2 separate regions of the Homo sapiens genome follow, and region 1 is linked to region 2. The links come from fine-mapping of genetic effects on gene expression. A gene starts in region 2. The other region holds a variant in brackets. All regions are shown on one strand. Distances are from middle to middle. Region 1 overlaps AKNAD1 (AKNA domain containing 1). Region 2 holds the start of GPSM2 (G protein signaling modulator 2).

The links. PIP is the estimated chance that this variant, and not a neighbour inherited with it, causes the effect.
Region 1: its variant is fine-mapped to the expression of GPSM2 in esophagus mucosa (GTEx, PIP 0.97).

The regions. Positions count from the first base shown.
Region 1 is chr1:108,825,707-108,835,148 of GRCh38, forward strand. It overlaps AKNAD1 (AKNA domain containing 1), which reads right to left. Exons shown (of 16, transcript NM_152763.5): 8 at 9,223-9,350; 9 at 8,741-8,822; 10 at 4,853-4,944; 11 at 1,499-1,596. It overlaps LOC105378891 (a long non-coding RNA gene), which reads left to right. Exons shown (of 5, transcript XR_947687.3): 3 at 8,484-8,630. Among named protein-coding and RNA genes, the nearest start is that of AKNAD1, 27 kb to the right of the region's middle. The variant A/T (reference allele first, on the strand shown) is at 4,400.
Region 2 is chr1:108,872,808-108,882,249 of GRCh38, forward strand. It overlaps GPSM2 (G protein signaling modulator 2), which reads left to right and starts at 4,178. Exons shown (of 15, transcript NM_013296.5): 1 at 4,178-4,421. RefSeq lists an enhancer at 3,834-3,933 and silencers at 4,014-4,413, 4,504-4,573.

The DNA.
Region 1 (9,442 bases), 47 kb before region 2:
GTGCAAATCATTTAGATTTCCCAAAACTAAATGAGCAGTTCCAAGGCGCTTTTTTTTTAGAATTTTAAACTGAGAGGTTTAAAAGATAATTTTATTTATTATGGCATTTAAAAAGTAATAAATCCATGTCATATTAACAAAATAGCAGTTTTTAATGAAAATAACTATTTCTAAAAAATTTAGTGAGAAGAGTGGCATCATTTTACGTTTTGGCAAATATCTTGAATATCTGGCTTAATAAAAGGCAACTGGATTCCATAACTGCATCTCCATCAGTTGCCTGTAATACTAGCGTTGCACAGCTATATGGCTGGTAAAGGAAGGACCTGGTGGCCCCCCCGAAAGGGTTTCAGGAAACCCCAGGGACCCTCCGATTACACCTGGAAAACTCCTACTTTGTTATACCATCTGGCATAATACGTCTTCAATCAATGAACCCTATTATTATTTGGAAATGTGTCATCTACAGAGAAGCCAGTGCAGAACCAAGTGTGACATAACAGAAGGCAGAGCTGGAGGCATGGCTCTGGGCCACAGGCAGTGCAGATGTAAGAAAGCCTGGGTAGCTCTCCAGTGCAGCTTCCTGGTGCATAAGCTGGGGAGACAAGCTGGGTAGGTAGGTTAGGCTCAGAGGTGATTTTTAAGCTCAGAAGCTGCCTGAGCAGAGGCCTCCAGCCCCACCTCTTCTCCCAGGGCAGTTCTGCTAGATGTTTCTCTCCTTAAACTATCTTTGAAAAAAAGGATCTTATGACTAAAAGCCATTGAATTGCGTGTACTGGGGCACCTCCCAGCTCCAACTTTCTTTGCTTCTATGAAATGCATATATCCAAAGCAGCAGCAATTCTCACGTAGCCAGTAACCTTACCAGGTACAGTTATGGGTCATGTGGGAAGGATGAGGATGGACAGACTGAATGACATCTTGTGATTGAGTCCATGGAGTCCTTCATTTTCAGCTAGAAACAGGTGTTCATGCTTTACTCTACTTAACCACATCTTATTGAAAGTGATTCTTTTTTTCTTTTCTTTTCTTTTTCTTTTTTTTTTTTTTTGAAACAGGGTCCTACTCTGTCGCCCAGGCTGGAGTACGGTGGCATGATCATGGCTCACTGCAGCCTCAACCTCCCGGACTCAAGCAATCTTCCCACCTTAGTCTCCCAAGTAGCTGGGACTACAGGCGTGAGCCACCACACCTGGCTAATTTTTGTATTTTTTTTGTACAGATGGAATGTCACCATGTTGGCCAGGCTGGTCTTGAACTCCTGAGCTCAAGTGATCCACCCGCCTCAGCCTCCCAAAGTGCTGGAATTACAGGCATGAGCCCCCATGCCCAGCCTATTAATTCTTTACATTTTGCAAATAAATAAATACAACATGCAACATCCTAGTGTAGGGAAATGCTCTTGGAGTGGCAGATGGCAAGCTGGTGCCTACTGCGAGCAGACCCCATGGGGAGGGACACTGAAAAATGAGCACCCAGCCCAAGCCCATCAACTTACTGGGAGTTGAATCTGAGTGTGGTGCCTTTTCATGAAGGACAATTGAAAATCTTCCACAGTTGATCCTTCCGTGGCCCTTTTTCTCCACGTTTTGCTTCCTAAAAAAAGGTGCATAAGATCCTGTAAACTTTTAGTGCATTTCCAATAGATAGGGAAAGTTTTGGTAAAGTTGAAACGTTAAATTTTGTTATATTAGAGCCTGGAACAGTGTAGGAGGGGCTTGTCATCCTCTACACAGAGCTCTCCTCTGCCTGCCTGTTTGAGAGCTTTTCTACAAGAAATTGCACCCCAGCACAATTTGGCCTGATAAGAAAATGTATACAAGACAGGCCAGGCGCGGTGGCTCACGCCTGTAATCCCAGCACTTTGGGAGGCTGAGGCGGGCGGATCACGAGGTCAGGAGATCGAGACCATCCTGGCTAACACGGTGAAACCCTGTCTCTACTAAAAGTACAAAAAATTAGCTGGGCGCCGTAGTGGGTGCCTGTAGTCCCAGCTACTCGGGAGGCTGAGGCAGGAGAATGGCGGGAACCCGGGAGGCGGAGCTTGCAGTGAGCCGAGATCGCGCCACTGCACTCCAGCCTGGGTGACAGAGCGAGACTCCTACTCAAAAAAAAAAAAAAGAAAATGTATACAAGACATGAAAAATAAATGTTTTGTTCTGCCGAGGTTAATATCTAATCATCACATACACATTCACAAAACACATTTGAAGTATGGAATTATAAAATTTGGAGTTTTCCTCATGCATCAAAATCCATTCCAGGCTGGGTATGGTGGCTCATGCCTGTAATCCCAGCACTTTGGGAGGCCAAGGAGGGTGGATGGCTTGAGACTAGGAGTTCAAGGTCAGCCAGGGCAACATGGCAAAACCTCATCTCAAAAACAAACAAACAAACAAACAAACAAACAAACAGTTCCTACCAGGGGAAGAAACTATGCTATACGTCAGTAATGGGTCACGTAGCTTTGGTCCTGGAAGTACAAGCTGATTACATCCAACAACTCCAGCAAAGTGGGCTTTGCCGGGTGTCTGTGGGACTAAAGGCTGAGGGAGCACGTGAAGGTGATTTTAGTTGCACATGGCCACCAGGTGGCGTCAGAAAGAAGCAACTGCAATGGACATTGTTCAGGAGCCTTCCTGTGGCCCACCTGCAGCTTCCTCCCTCCTCCTCAGAAATCCCAACTCCTCCAAAGGAATTCGAATTAATAACAGTTCTGAACAAAGCTCTTGCTAAGCTCCTGGGATACAGTCATAGCCCCCAGGGAAAGTTGTTCATTCTTAGTATGGAAGGCACTGTGCCCGAGATATCCTGGCATAAATGAGGCAGATTGCCCAGGGCTAGGGTTTGAGCCCAAGGCATTGCTGGGCAAACACATGCTCGCCGCGCTGTGCCCTGGCCTGCTGTTGGCGGAGAAGGGATGGGGCTGCGGGTTTGTGGGGCTGGGGCTGAGAAGCCAGGCTCTTTCCCTCCTCTTGGAAAAACATGCTGTCCTCTTGAGTCACATATTTTCTCACACCTCATTTTCTGTCTCCACCCTTCTCCTCTGGGGCATTTGAACATCTGCTCTCCAAAGTGGGAAACTTGGATCTCACTCAAGTGCATGCAGTCCAACACAGGACTTTTTCTGCTTTTAAACTCCTTTGTGTACTCAAATCTTCTGGCCAAACATAATTCCTCTGGAGAAGACAGTTTTTCAACAAGACAAAGCAGCTAAAGTACACACTTAAATCCAAAGTTTTGCATCAGAAATAACATAAAGGGATAAGCATATTTTACATTTTATACATATGTAATTTATCCACTTATATATAAACAATTTACAAATATCCTGAAAACAGTATGTACCTCAGCAAGCTTCATAAAGGACAAGTCCCATCAGAGAGAGATTTAATCTTCTAACAGAAAGAATATATAGTCCTCCCTTCAATCAATAATTCCTCAGGGATTATGTAAGTTACAAGATTTTAATTCATAAGTCATGTGTATCTTCTCATCACTCCCCAGCAGTGGATTCACTGTGAGATTTGATTTTACACTTGGTTGTGCTTGTCTTTCCAGCTTGTCTATCATAAAAAAGTATTATTTAGTCTGGAACATTGGTCCCTGTCTTGGTACTTAATGTACTTCTGTAGGGTCTAGACTAGGAATTTAGAAGAGAGAAATTTAGTACCTTGAGTGCTTAATAAAAATGGTTCTTTAATGTCAAAATACTTTCATTATACTTAGTAAAACCTTTAAAAATCCAAAATTAGACTTTAATTCAATAAATAAAAATAGTAGGCCTGGGATGACTCAGTGAGTAAGCTTCATGAGTGCCCCTTGGATTAAAGGGCAGCTCAAAGCTGATGACTGACATGGTGGTTTAATGACCCACACACAATGACACATGACCATTTTTAGCACGAGCTTCATGCAGTTTCTTTTTTCAGGGGTGGACACTCATTAGAACTCTTAAGGCAGGTGCCCATTCCCACAATGGAATGCTTTCTAACAGGAAGCCTCAGTCTTTCAGACCCTGTCATCTGCTTCTATTAGAATCCATTACGTACATATAACAGTGGTTGCTAAACACCTGCTGCCTCCCTGACTCTTGACCTTCCAAAGGTCAATGAGCCGAGCTTTGGCCGGAGTCCACAGTGAGCTTAGAGGTAACATCTCTCGCTACCTGAAAGAAGCTTCAAATAAATGATACTGAATCGACACAGATTAATAGTTGCACCAATGGGTGTTTCAAAAACAAAGGATTTCTCCTGAGGATTTTACATGATTTACAGCTTGTTAGCTCTGGAAGATTTCGTCCTTAGGAATGGGAAGAAATCAGCCCTGAGAAGAGGGATGAGGCTTGTTCCTGGGACTGGGGGGCTCAGGTGAAACCCAACAGAGAAGACTTTTGCTC[A/T]TCATAAGGAGAGAGTAGGGATGGTGGGAGCTGTTTGTTATACAGGATAAGAATCCCCCATGTGGGCAATGATCAAAAGCCTACAGGACCACCCTCCGTGGGCTGTAACCATGATTCTTAACCAAGGGGGCTTATCGGAATCACCTGGGGAGATTTAAAAGCAATATTCCTACCAGAGCCCCACCGCTGGCGATGCTGAGACAGTAGGTGGGATGGAGGCATGTGCATGATTGTAAAATCTCCCATGGTGATTTTGATGGTCTCCCCAGTTGAGGACCACTGCTAGAGGATCTGTAGGGTGCGAGGGAGGCTGGGCTCTGTGCCCAGGCCTGAGATCTGTGACTCTATAACTCAGCCAGTGGCCTCAGTTAGTTGCCGCCCACTCTCACTGGAGTTACTATGCCAGGACTGACTCCAATCCACCCTGGGAATGTAGCCACAAGAAGCCCTCACCATTCAAGGAGCCTGCGACAGAAGGCACAGCTCGGACTGGGTGCCGTCATCTCTGCACAATCCTGCCTTCTTGGAGTGCCGTTGGGATCCTCCTGCGCCACAAAGCACACAGATGGAGATGTGATAGAGGATGTGACTCACGCCGCGGCTGCACACGCACAGCCCAGCAAGCAGCTGAGGTCCGGCTGAACTTGCCACCTCAGGCAGAGAGACTCGCCAAACCTCTCCTCCAGTTGGGGAAAGGGAGGCGCAGGGGGACAGGAGGGAAAGAAGAAAGAGCCCATCCTTAGTTCTGATGTGTCACTCAGTCGGGGCTGCGCCTCTAATGGCCTGGGCTGAAGAATGGAAGTTTCCACCCTGGCTTGCTTCCTTCCTCCTCTAAACAGATTTTAAAATCTGGTGTACAGATGACAGAATACTCTCCCCTTTTTATCTTTCCCTTAGTTTCAAATTACTCCAAGCTTCGCCAGATAATGAACAGATTTAGGAACATAATTTTTAGATCTATTAATCTGACCGCTGGCTAGTAGAGCTCTAAAAGCCTTTCTAAATAAATATATTCAACTATGAATTAAAACAGGGTTTAGGGACTGTCTGGGGGCCTAAATGATTGGTTATATGTCCCTCTTTAACACAAAACAATTACTCCACTGACCTGTGAGGGCTGTTACCACCCACTGTGTATTTTTGACTAAGGTCTTACCCTTTATGTAAGTAAAAAATAAATGTACTTTTCCCATCATTATAAACAATGGCAGAAGCATCATTGTACACATAGCTTTTTCCACATCTTGGATTACTTCCTGAGGAAATGTCTGGGCCAAAGGTTGCGAACATGTTTGTGTGATGACCCATATTGCCAAATTGCTTTCCACAAAAGTTGTACAGATTTCACAGCCACCAACAGTGTGGACGGCTCAGTTTGACCACACCTTCCTCTGCATCAGGAATTATCACTTGAAAATGTTTCTGTTAATTGAAGGGAGGGGTGTGTCACCTTTTGTGTTAATTTGCATTTCCTCTGTGACTAAAGGAAATAAGTCTGTTCCTATATGCTGATTTATTGGTTGTATTTCCTACCTGTGACTTTTTTTTTTTTTTTTGAGACGGAGTCTCACTCTGTTGCCCAGGCTGGAGTGCAGTGGCCTAATCTCAGCTCCCGGGTTCAAGCAATTCTTCTGGCTCAGCCCCCCAAGTAGCTGGGATTACAGGTGCCCACCACTACCCCCAGCTAATTTTTTGTATTTTTAGTGGAGACAGTTTCACCATGTTGGCCGGGCTGGTCTTGAGCTCCTGACCTCATGATTCGCCCACCTCGGCCTCCCAAAGTACTGGGATTACTTTAATTGTGAGTAATTGTGTGAGCCACTGCGCCCGGCCTTACTTGTGACTTTTTAGCTCATGTCCTTTGTCCATTAATTTTCTTGGAGGGTTTCAGTGTTTTCCTGTTACCATTTGCTAGTTGTTCATGATGTGCCAGGTGCTTCCCTTATAGTCTCCTTAATACTTCCAACCATCCTGGCACGTTGTCGCCATTTTAATGGTGAGTGATCTGAGGCCTGGCGGATTTAAGCAATTTGGCAAGGTTGCATCATGAGTAAGTGGGAAAGCTGGGATTTTAACTTTTACCTATCTGACTGGTATGCTGTGTTCTTTTTTTTTTTTTTTTTTTTTTGAGATGGAGTTTCTCTGTGTTGCCCAGGCTGGAGTGCAGTGGCGCAATCTTGGCTCACTGCAACCTCCACCTCCCTCCCAATTTCAAGTGATTCTCCCACCTCAGCCTCCCTTCCAAGTAGCTGGGACTACAGGAACACACCACCCCACCCAGCTAATTTTGGTATGTCTTAGTAGAAACAGAGTTTCACCATGTTGGTCAGGCTGGTCTCGAACTCCTGACCTCAAGTGATCCACCCGCCTTGGCCTACCAAAGTGCTGGGATTACAGGCGCGAGCCACTGCACCCGGCCAGTATGCTTGTGTTCTTAACCACAGTTCTGCTCCTTGGGGAATTTGTCACAGCATTTGATATAATGAAGTTCTCAACAATGAACATTATTTGCCCTTAATATTTTCTCAGTTGTCTATCTACATTTTTTTTAATTGATGGTGGTTTCAGTTTTGTAAACAACTTAAAATATCAATATTGTCAAGGAGGAGGTGCGAGTGGCCAAGAAACATATGAAAATAGATTGAGTTTCAAAAATAGCAAGATTAAAATAATGAGATATCAGTTTTCACTTATGCATTTGGCAAAAGTTGGAAAAAGAAAAAAATGTCTGGGGTAGGCTCAAACTGGGGACACCAACATTCCCACGCACTGCCCTCAGCCTATAAACCCCCATGGACTTCCTAAAGGCCAGATTATCAGAATTTTCAGCATGTACCATTTGAACCATTAACTGCAATCCTAGGGTTTTATTCTAAGGAAATGATCAACTACAAATGTTTGCATGTCAAATGATGTTACCTGAAGCAGTGTTTATGATATCAAAGAACTGGAAAAAACTAAATCTCCATCAATAAGAGATTGTCTAAATGTGTCAGAGTACATTAGTATAATGAAATATAGTACAGTCATCAAAAATGAAGCGATAGTTTATTCTAAGTGATGTGGAGAGCTGCTCAAAATATAACATTAAATGAAAAGCATAAAACAATATATATAGTAAAATCCTATTTTGGCCAAAATGTATATATAGGAGAAAAAAAGACTGGAAGGATATACACTAAAATATTAGCAATGGGCCAGGCGCAGTGGCTCATGCCTGTAATCCCAGCACTTTGGGAGGCTGAGGTGGGTGGATCACCTGAGGTCGGGAGTTCTAGACCAGTGTGGGCAACGTGGTGAAACCTCCTCTCTACTAAAAATACAAAAATTAGCTGCACGTGGTGGCACATGCCTGTAATCCCAGCTACTCAGGAGGCTGAGGCAGGAGAATCACTTGAACCCAGGAGGCAGAGGTTGCAGTGAGCTGGGATCGCACCATTGCACTCCAGCCTGGACAACAAAGCGAGACTGTCTCAAAAAAAAAAAATTAGATTGATTTTCCTCTCAGTGGAAGTTTCTTCTTTATACTTTTCTTTATTTTCTCATTTCTCTTGTAATAAGCATGTATCAGTTTTATAATTTAAAAAAAAAGGGTTTTTTCATCCATTTTTCCCATGGTTTTTTTTTTTTAATTTTTATATTTTATCATTGCTGAGCTTACAGGGTTACTCCTCCACTGACATTTAAGGCAGATTTACATTAGCAGAATGCAGGGAGGTGCCCCTCCACCTGAGTTGGAGACCCGGGCATCACCTATCATTTACCCTGAACAAATATCACCTTTCTAAACTACTCTTCCTCTGCAAAAAGTCTTTGCAAACTGTAAAGCTCTGAGCCAACATAATTATTATATCATTGTTTACTGCTTATTATAATATTATAATATAATATCATTTAAGACCCCGGGGTTGGTAATCCCAGCATTTCCAATTCATTCGAAATGAAATAATCTCTAGACCCTCAGAATTTAAAATGTGGTCCGCAGACCAGAACCAGCAGCTTTGGCATCACCTGGGGCTTGTTAGCAATGCAGAATTGCAGGCTCGCCCCAAACTTACTGATTCAGAGCCTGCATTTTAACAAGATCTGCAGGTGATTCATAGGCTCGGAGAAGTTGGAGAAGCTCCGGTCTAGGTACGCCTGCCGAGATTCTCAGGAGTGCAGAAAGTGGGAAACCGTCAGCAGTACCAGCCATCACCAGCACTGACACCCAGGATGCCATTAGGAAGAGGTAAGTGATCTTGATTATGCCAATTTCACAGTCACATTCAGCAACACTGGTTTTAGTTAAAGAGCCAACAATGAGAAGAACCCAGCCAGGCCCCGGCTGCAGGACATTACCCCAGAGTTAGAAGACAGCCTCATGGCCACTTGGTCTGGCTTGTTCTGGGCAGCTGCATCTCCATAATGACCGTTTAGGTAACTAATTTAAAAAAAAAAAAAGCAGTTTGAATGTTAGAATCAGTTCTTGAGCTACCTGGGAGCTCCACTATTTGGAATCACTTGGCATCACCCCTGGGATGGTGGGAGCGAGCAACCTAAGGCAGAGAGTGCTATGGGCCTCATGCGGCCACTTGACCTTCACCTCTCCCCGCGTCCCCCAGCCCCAGCTGTCCCGTCCCTCAGATCTCTGCCCAGAGGGTTGCAGAGGCTGGCCAGGCCCTGCTGGTGGGGCAGGTGAGGAGCCAGGCTACCAGGCTTTGTAACTCGTGGTCCAAGACTGCTTTTCCTGTGGGAGCCTCATGGGCCTTCCTGGAGGCTGCATGAGGAAGGGGCCTCTTTCTGTGTCCTGTGTCTGCTGGGGCTCCAGGGCTAGGACTCACGTCTGCGGGGCCAGCTCACAGAGCTCCTCGTTGGGGGCCTCCTGCGGCCCTCCTTGGGGTGTCCCTGTTACCTCACTCCCACCTGAGCCTCGAGGCCCAGAAGGGTGGCCGGGGTGCTCCTTGGGAATCTGGGGGAGCCACACAGAAAGACTTGAATTAGAGCCACAGTCCCACTGGAGGTGACTCAAAATCAGTTCAGCATCCCTACAGCACCCCTAAG
Region 2 (9,442 bases):
AAAAACTTCATTGCTGTGTTCCCAGCATCCAGCAAAGTGCCTGGCATAAAATAGGCATTTAAACATAAATGTTATGGAGCAGATCACAGTATGTTTTTAAACAGATCCCTTCCTCTCTCTCTCTCTCTCTGTCTTTCTCTCTCTCTGATCCAGGATCCCCAGCAAGACTAATGTGCCTTTTTGTTTTTCATGACATTGACATTTATAAAGAGTCTGGGCTAGTTGCAGAATGTCTCAAATTCTGGATTTGTTCCAGAGTGCTTTTTTAAAAATATAAATCAGGACCAGGCATGGTGGCTGACACCTGTAATCCCAGAACTTTGGGAGGCCGAGGCAGGCGGATCACCTGATGTCAGGAGTTCAAGACCAGCCTGACCAACATGGTGAAACCCTGTCTACTAAAAATACAAAATTAGCTGAGTATGGTGGCACATGCCTGTAGTCCCAGCTAATCGGGTGGCTGAGGCAGGAGAATTGCTTGAACCCTGGAGGTAGAGATTGCAGTGAGCTGAGATTGCACCATTGCACTCCAGCCTGGGCAACAAGAGCAAAACTCCATCTCAAAAAAAAAAAAAGATATATATATATATATATATATATATATATACGTATATATATATACATATATATATATACGTATTTTATATATATATATATATATATATATATATATAAATCAGATGAAGTTATTCCCATATTTAAAACCTTCCACAGGATTCCTATAATATTTAGAAAATAAAGTCCAAACTCACTACCCTGGCTTACAAAGGTCTACATTGCCTTTTGTATGTTTTCTTCTTTCTCACTGCAGCCACAGTGGCCTTCCTCCGGTTTCTCAAGTCCACAAAGCTCTCAAATCCTGCAAAATCCTCGCAGGACTTTGCACTGGCTGTTGCCTTTTCCTAATGTGCTTTTCCCTGAAGTTTGCTTGAAGGCTGGCTCCTTCTCATAATTCAAATCCCAGTTTGAATGCCGTTTTCTCAGAGAGGACTTCCTTATCTTAGCCCCCAATCTGAAGTAAAGTAGTCACTTACTCACTCTCACATCACCCTTCTTGTAACTCTCTGCATGGTACCTATCATAACCTGATATTTTTCTTTTTCTTTTTTCTTTCTTGAAGCAGGGTCTGGCTCTGTCACCCAGGCTAGAGTGCAGTGGCTGGATCATAGCTCCCTGGAGACTTGAACTCTTGGGCCTCAGCCTCAGCCTCCCGAGTAGCTGAGACTACAGGTGTGTGCCACCACACCAGGCTAATAAAAAAAATTATTTTTGTAGAGATAGGGTCTCACTATGTTGCCCAGGCTGGTCTCAAACTCCTGGCCTCAAGCAGCCGTCCCACCTTAGCTTCCCAAAGTGCTGCAATTACAGGTGTGAGCACACCCAGTCCTGATATTTCTTGTTGTTTATTTTTGTTGAGCTCCAAGAGATCAGGGGCTGTGTTCTGTTGTGCTCACTACTATATTCCCTGTACCTAGAACAGCTCCTGACACACAGCAGAAGTTTAATACATACTTGCTGAATACTGTAATGAATAAGCTGAGAGCTGAGGATGAAAAGAAGCCAACCATTTAAAGAGCTTGGGGAAAATCTAGGCAGGGAGGAGGTCCTGAGAGAACCTTGAGGCTTAGTCCATTCTAGGGCATGAAGAATGCCCTGTGTACTTGGAGGAAAGTGAGGCAGCAGGAGGAAAAAATAGGAGAGAAGAGAGAAATTGGCAGGGGCAAGATGGCTTAAGGCCTTTTCCCCCACAGGAAGTTTGGATTTTATTTTAAATTAAATGGGAAATCACTAAAGGTTTACGAGTACGAGAGTGACATAATCTGACTTATGCCATTTAAAAGATATTTTTCAATTTGAGTGATTAGGAAGATGGAAGTAACTAATATCAGAGATAGAAATCACATATGTAAGAGAAGATTTGCAGGGGGTAAATAATTCTGGACATGTTGAATGTAATGTTGTACTTCTGGCTGGGTGAGGGGGCTCATGCCTATAATCTCAGCACTTTGGGAGGCCAAGGCAGGAGGATCCTTTGAGCCCAGGAGTTCAAGACCAGCCTGGGCAACATAGTGAGACCTTTTCTCTACTGAAAAAATAAAAATAGCCAGACATAGTGTCAAGCTCCTGTGGTCCCAGCTACTGGGGTGTAGGGGAGGGGTGAGATCGGAGGATCACTTGGCCCTGGGAGGTTGAGGCTGCTGTGCAGTGATCTCCAGCCTGGGTGACAGAGGGAGGTCCTGTCTCTCTCTCTATATATATAAAATTTCCTTTGTGGCTTTCACAGTATCCATACTTTAAAAGAATTTATAATTAAGAAGGAATTAATACCTACCTCTGAAACAGTACAGCCAACCAATTCCATTGTTATTTACAAGAACCTGATATTAAAGATGGTTGTAACGATAATAGGTATCAAGTATGGAGCAGTTTCTATGTGTCAGGCCCTATGTCAACCACTTAACAACCTTACCTCACAGAAGCATCATAGCAACCCTTATTAGAAGAGGCTTTATTATGTTTTACAGGTGGGGAAACTAAGACTAAAGAAGATAACTCATTCAAGGTCAATCAGCAAGTAAGTAGCAGAATTGGAACTCAAACCCAGGTCTAGTTTGATGATAAAGCTGTTCCTTTAAGCAATTTGCCATAACATGCACCTAATGGGAAATGTTGCTTGGATCACTGGTTATGGCCATCATTCACGGAGATACTGAACCCGGAGTTTTCTTTAACATAGCCTTTACCCTGTAGAAACATTTAAACTTCATTTCAGAAGAGAAATATCTATTTGAAAAATAATCTAAGTAAATTCATCAGATGCTTTACCCCAGAGAGACTCTGGTCTTGGTATTTTGGTTTTTGTTGTTGTTTGAGACGGAGTCTCGCTCTGTCGCCGAGGCTGGAGTGCAGTGGCGCGATCTCGGCTCACTGCAACCTCCGCCTCCTGGGTTCAAGCAATTCTCCTGCCTCAGCCTCCCGAATAGCTGGGATTGCAGGCGCCCACCACCAGGCACGGCTAATTTTTGTATTTTTAGTAGAGACGGGGTTTCACCATTTTGACCAGGCTGGTCTCCAACTCAGGTGATCCCCCCGCCTCGGCCTCCCAAAGTTGCTGGTATTACAGATGTGAACCACCGCGCCCGGCCGGTATTTTGTGAAGAACAAACTATAAGGTGACTACTATTTTGGGGTCACCTTGACATGGAGGAGAGGTGAATGGAAATAAAACTTATTCTTCCCAGTGTCTTTAGAATGTAGGCGCTGAAACTGAGTGAAACTGAGTAAAACTGCCACCCAATTTTCCTGGGAACCAGCGATTCTGTAGTCAACAGAAGTTTGCTTTTCCAACAGCTGGAAACGCCAGGGTTGGGCACAGCCTCAAGAACTGAGGCTGCCTTGTTCAGACTTTCACACGGTCCCTCTGTTCCTTCCACAGAGGCCTCTTTTTCTTCTATATCCCGCATCTGCCGCTTGGGACACTCATTCTGTAGCGCAGCACCAAGTCTTCCAAAAAGGCGGCGCTGGTTTTGCGCTCCTTTTTTAAAGGGATCTAGGCCAGCCTCTATCTGAACTCTGTACGATGTTTTTTGTTTGTTTGTTTTGTTTTGTTTTTGAGATGGAATTTCGCTCTTGTTGCCCAGGCTGGAGTGCAATGGTGCGATCTCCACTCACGGCAACCTCCGCCTCCCGGATTCAAGCGATTCTCCTGCCTCAGCCTCCTGAGTAGCTGGGATTAAAGGCATGCGCCACCACTCCCAGCTAATTTTGTATTTTTAGTAGAGACGGGGTTTCTCCATGTTGGTCAGGCTGGTCTCGAACTCCCGACCTCAGGTGATCCGCCCGCCTCGGCCTCCCAAAGTGCTGGGATTATAGCCGTCCGTCACAGCGCCCGGCCAACTCTAGACAATATTTATTGCTCTACTTTTTAGTGTCTGAAGAAGAAAGAAGAGGACAGGAAAGAAACTTCAGTCTGAGGGTTGAGGACACGTCCCGGAGCAGAGGAGGACCAAGCTCCCAAGCCCCCTGTCACCTTGACACGCAGACGGTTCCCCAGGACTGCGAAGAGGGGGGCAACCAGCGCCCCGCCCCGCCCCGCTGCGCCGCCCGCCATTGGCCGGTCCGAAAGACGCGGGGCGTTGTCGGTTTGAATGAGAGCGCCTGGAGCCGGGGCGCAGGCGCAGAGGAGGGCGGTGTTGAGACCGGCGGAGCGGCGGGACCCCTAGGTGGCGGAGGGACGCTCCGGGAAAGCGAGGGGCGCTACGAGCTCTGGCCCACGTGACCTGCCGGGGGCGGGAGCAGGGGGCGCGCCGGCCTCCTGCGGTGCCCCTGCCTTGGGGAGGGGCCGTGACCACCCGTCTGTCGCCCGAGGCGGCCGCCGCTGCACCTTCACCGCGTACCCGGGACCCGCCCGCCCGCGGGAGGTGAGCGCTTCCGCGACGCGGGTTCTGAGGCGTTTGAGGGGCTCTCGGAGGGAGGTGACAGGGAGGGGTGCGTGTGCGTGCGTGTGGGGCTTCTGTGTCCAGAGGTCTGGGGGTGACGTCCTTTGTTTTGGGCAGGAGGCGGGCTGGGGGCTTGCGGGACCTGTGGGCGCTGCGGGGACGCGGCGTCGATGCTCAAGAAACCAGAAACTCGGCTTGAGGAGTTGCTGCTTTTTTGTCGGAAGGTCTTCAAATGAGAGTAAAGCGTTAAGAGCCTCACTCCTGAGTCTTTTTTTTTTTTTAAGATAAAAACTATACTAGAGTCCAGCGACTTCTTACCACTCTGAATGTGAGTAACAAATTGTGAATCAAAGCCCGAATCCCCGTGGAATTCATTCCGAGGCTGATTGCAATCACTTGGAGTCGGGCGCGTCCTACCTAAACCAGGCAGTTTATGGCAAATACCTGCCTTGACCGTGCTTAAATTAGTGAACTTTTGGGCACCAACTGGTCGATTTACCATAGAAATTGGTAGTTGCTGCAAAAAGAGTAAGTAAACATAAAACGTTAAGAAAACTCTTTCCTGAAATCTATAGAATACCTTCGAATAAAAAAAAATCTGTAATTTCCTTGTTTTAATAGTAACCAGTTAGAGCATTTGAACTAGTAGCATTTGAACTCTGTTAAAGAAAACGAGTAAGGATGGAAATTTTATTGGCCTTAATGCATAATTTAACCACACCGTAGAATTAAACGAAGTAGGTTCTTGGCTTTCCTTTCTATCGGGTTTGCATTGGAGCGTTCGTGGGGTGTGTTGGAAGTCAGCAGGACCAACAGAGCTGAGTTTTCAAGCTGCCACTTTAGAAGGGTGTACCGAAGATTTCTGGCCTGATAATAGCCGGTGTGATTGCTTCTGATAAATACCACTTTTGATTGGGTTCTCACTATTCAGGAGCAGCTTTAGTTGATTGTTTAGAAGTGAATAAACAACATTAAAAAGGGTAGATCACTGTTGGTTGACATGGTGTGTGTAAGGAGAGGGGGGCCTCAGGGATTAGGGGTGGTCTCACACCTACTTCTCTTTACAACTACCACGGAGTCGTTTTCGCAAGCTATTTCCCAGGCTATTACTTATAATTTAAGTATTGGAGCGGTTTCAAAGTAAAAAGTTGTGTGATGTTGTTGTAGAGGCATGTCTCCAAAATCCTCTCTGGCCAGATAAGCAGTTTAATTGTATTTTCTTACATTCTTAAATCAGATATTCGGTGTTACAAACATATTTTAATATAGATCTGAGACTTGCTTACTAGACTAATTAAAACAGTGATAAGATATAGTAGTTTTAAAAATGACCTTTTCATAAACATAAAATATTTCTAAGATCTATCTTTAGAAATTTGTAATTAGTTCTCTGGAATTTTAAAATGGAAAATCTGACATAGATTTAGGTTATTCTAAATTTATTTGAATATATATTAAATATGTCTATTTTATAATAACAGTTACTGTTATTACTACAGCACTATGTTGAGTACTTTTGTTATGTATCAGAGCCAGGTGCTGGGTCAGGTGCTTTATAAATCATGTCTGTAATTATCACAGCACATTTTAGGTAAGTGTCATTATGCCCACACCAACTGAGAGTTTAGCGTAAGATCATATAACTAATAAGTCACTGTGCCGAGATTCAAATCATGGCCTGATCCCAAAGCACATGCTGTATTGCTTCTGTGTGTCTGTTTAAATCTCTGCTGTGTCTCTGGATTCCATTTGTAGGGACAAGTTCTACTTTAAAGATGCCTTTAGGTGCTGTGTTTTGTTGTAGCTTCGCAGAAATATTTCAATCTTTCTGTTGGAACTATCTTGCTTCATTATTTTATAAATCATCTTATAAATCACATTATATTTTCAATATCTTCTTAATCATCTTTATACAAAACATAAGTGAAGAGTAAGACTTTTCTGAGTTTCTTACATAAATATGAATAGAATCTTTACTGTGGAGAAGAAATGTATTACAGTCCGGTTTTCTCACTATTGTAGGATTCTTTGGCCTCGTCATAATTCCTGTCTTCTTCCCAGGGAAGAAATTAAAGTTTGTTGGGCCTCTCTTATGTGCAAAGCAATGTCGTTGGTGTTGTGAGATGACAAGAAAATGCTTCCTATTCAGTAGTTGTTTCTGGAGTTTTTGTAGTATTTTTCTTTTCTCCCCATTCCTGCCTTATATGTTGCTGCTGGTTTATCTTCCTAGCAGAGATCCAACTTGGCTATTCCTTTGTGGGGAAAAAATACCAGCAAGGTTCCCCATTGTGTAAATAAAAGGCTGAGGCCGGGTACGGTGGCTCACGCCTGTAATCCCAGCACTTTGGGAGGCCGAGGTGGGCGGATCACGAGGTCAGGAGTTCAACACCAGCCTGACCAACGTGGTGAAACCCCGTCTGTACTAAAAATACAATAGTTAGCCCAGTGTGGTGGCACACGCCTGTAATCCAAGCTACTCAGGAGGCTGAGGCAGGGAGGCGGAGGTTGCAGTGAGCCGAGATCGCGCCACTGCACTCCAGCCCGGGTGACAGATCAAGACTCCATCTCAAAAAAAAAGGGGGGGCTGAATATGAATATATGCTTCTGCCACATGTTCAGAGTCCCTCACAGTTTGTTACTGTTCTACCTTCTCAGCCTTCTCTTTCACTACTCTGAATACTGTGTGCTTATCCTGGAACACATTCTGTGCATTTCTACCCTCCCTTTTTCTTGAGCCATTCTTTTCCCTTGACTGGAATGCCTTTCCTTCATTTGGCTAATAAGATCTACCCATCCTTCAAGGTGCTGTACAAAATTCCTTGCTTCCAAAAAGTTTTCCCTGGTCCTTTTCAGTTAGAATTATTATTCCCATATTATCACAAAACATTATTGAATAGAAACATTTATTTTCCCACAGAATGGTGATAACTTTTGGGAAGAGAAGACAAAATCATGTTTAATATATTTTCCTATGGAGAATTCTAAACTCAAACTCTCTAGGGACCCTTTCTAAGCATTTATAATATTTCTGCATTTGGGATTTATTTCTGCTTTAAAATGTGTTTGGGTCAGGTGCAGTGGCTCACACCTGTAATCCCAGCACTTTGAGGGGCCCAGGTGGGCGGATCACTTGAGACCAGGAGTCGAGACCAGCCTGCCCAACATGGCGAAACCCTGTCTCTGATAAAAATACAAAAATTAGCCAGGCGTGGTGCTGGGCACCTGTGGGAGGCTGAGAGAGGAGAATCACTTGAACCCAGGACGTGGAGGTTACAGTGAGCCAAGATGGCGCCACTGCACTCCAGCCTGGGCGACAGAGTGAGACTCCGTCTCAAAAAAAAAAAAAACAATGCTTAGTGGAAAGGACCATTTCTTTTCTATTTCACTATTGAGCTTTAAAATTATGTATATGTATTAATTGATTGAAGCTGATGACTGGACCATCGTTGGTAATAATAAATGGCTATGCTTACCAAAAAGGTTTATATATAGTTCAGATGATCTAACCTGGTGGCAAGAAAAGTAAATTATATTTATTGTCTGATGAATGTTACCAGTTTGTGTAGATCCATGGATGGAAGAAACAGACCAAAAACAAACAAAGAAACAGACCAAAAGTTATTGGCATTTAAGTGGCAGTCAGGATCAGATAGTTTAGATAAATTCGAAGAAGCACAAAATGTAACCTGGTTTGCAAACTTTTTACTGCCAGTGGAGTAAAGCAGGGCTAGGATTTCTTTGATAAAGAGCTAGCCTTTCTTGTCTGCTCTGATTGCATACCTTGGACAGTGCCTGGAAGTCCACCTAGCTGTCTAAAGGGAGTCTGTCTATTTTGACTTCCTAATCAGATAATTAAATGTGAGGCAGTTAGAGTTATGTACTAGTTGATCTTTCTATATGTCTCTGTCAATTCCCGGGATATGGAAAAAATGATTGCCTTTTCTTTATGGTTAGATGCCGTGATCTAGCAATTTTGTTAATTTTGAGGTTTTTGGAGCATTGCTTGGAAGATGCTATTAAGAGACAGATTTGTTCCTTGCAGATTGTTAGTTGTAAATAGTAGTGGAGGTTGGAGGTTGAACTTGATGACTTCTCAATATCCTTTCAAACCTACAAATTATTTTCCAGTTCTTCGTCCTGTGATTAAATTTTCTTATCCTAATGATCAAATTTGTAATTTAATATTTGTTGCAAATTTTACTAGTCTTACACTATATACACACACATTGTATCTAGGAAGTAGGTTTGTTAACTCCATGTAATGAGGAACATGAGTGAACACATTATTGCTAAATTGGCTAGAGAGTTCTTAAAACATGAATCATGAATCAAGAATTGCTTGTTTGTTCAGTGAATATTTTTTTGTGTGAAGTGCTACCTAATTGTTATGGAGATTGTAATGTAAGAGGCACTTTTAAAGATATTCTTCCCTTGAGAATAGTAAGACTATATTATAAATTGCTCTTATTGAAATAGTGAATAGCATTCTGTCTTCTTGCTTATTTTAATGGTCTTAGAAATGGTTCTTTCTACATGCAGTTTTCATCAAGTAAAATATTTTGCAACTTTATTTATATTCATTTACTTATTCGTTAATTTGTGAAACATGTAAATGCTACATGTTTACATCTTAAGGAGTATGAAATTAACATTTTATAATTGCAAAATTTAGAATTTCATTAAGAACTCATGGATGAGAACAATATTTTGTTTTATTTTTTTAGAGACAGGGTCTCACTCTGTGGCCCAGACTGGAGTGCAGTGGTGCAATCATCGATTACTATAACCTCCAACTCCTGGGCTCAAGCAATCCTCCTGCCTCATCCTCCCAAGTAGCTGGGGCTATAGTCACAGGCCACCACACCTGGCTGATTTTTCAATTTTTTGTAGAAACGGGGTCTTGTACGTTGCCTGGGCTGGTCTTGAACTGTTGGTCTCAAGTGATCCTTCCACCTTGGTCTCCCAAAGCACTGGGATTACAGATGTCAGCCACCGGGCCTACC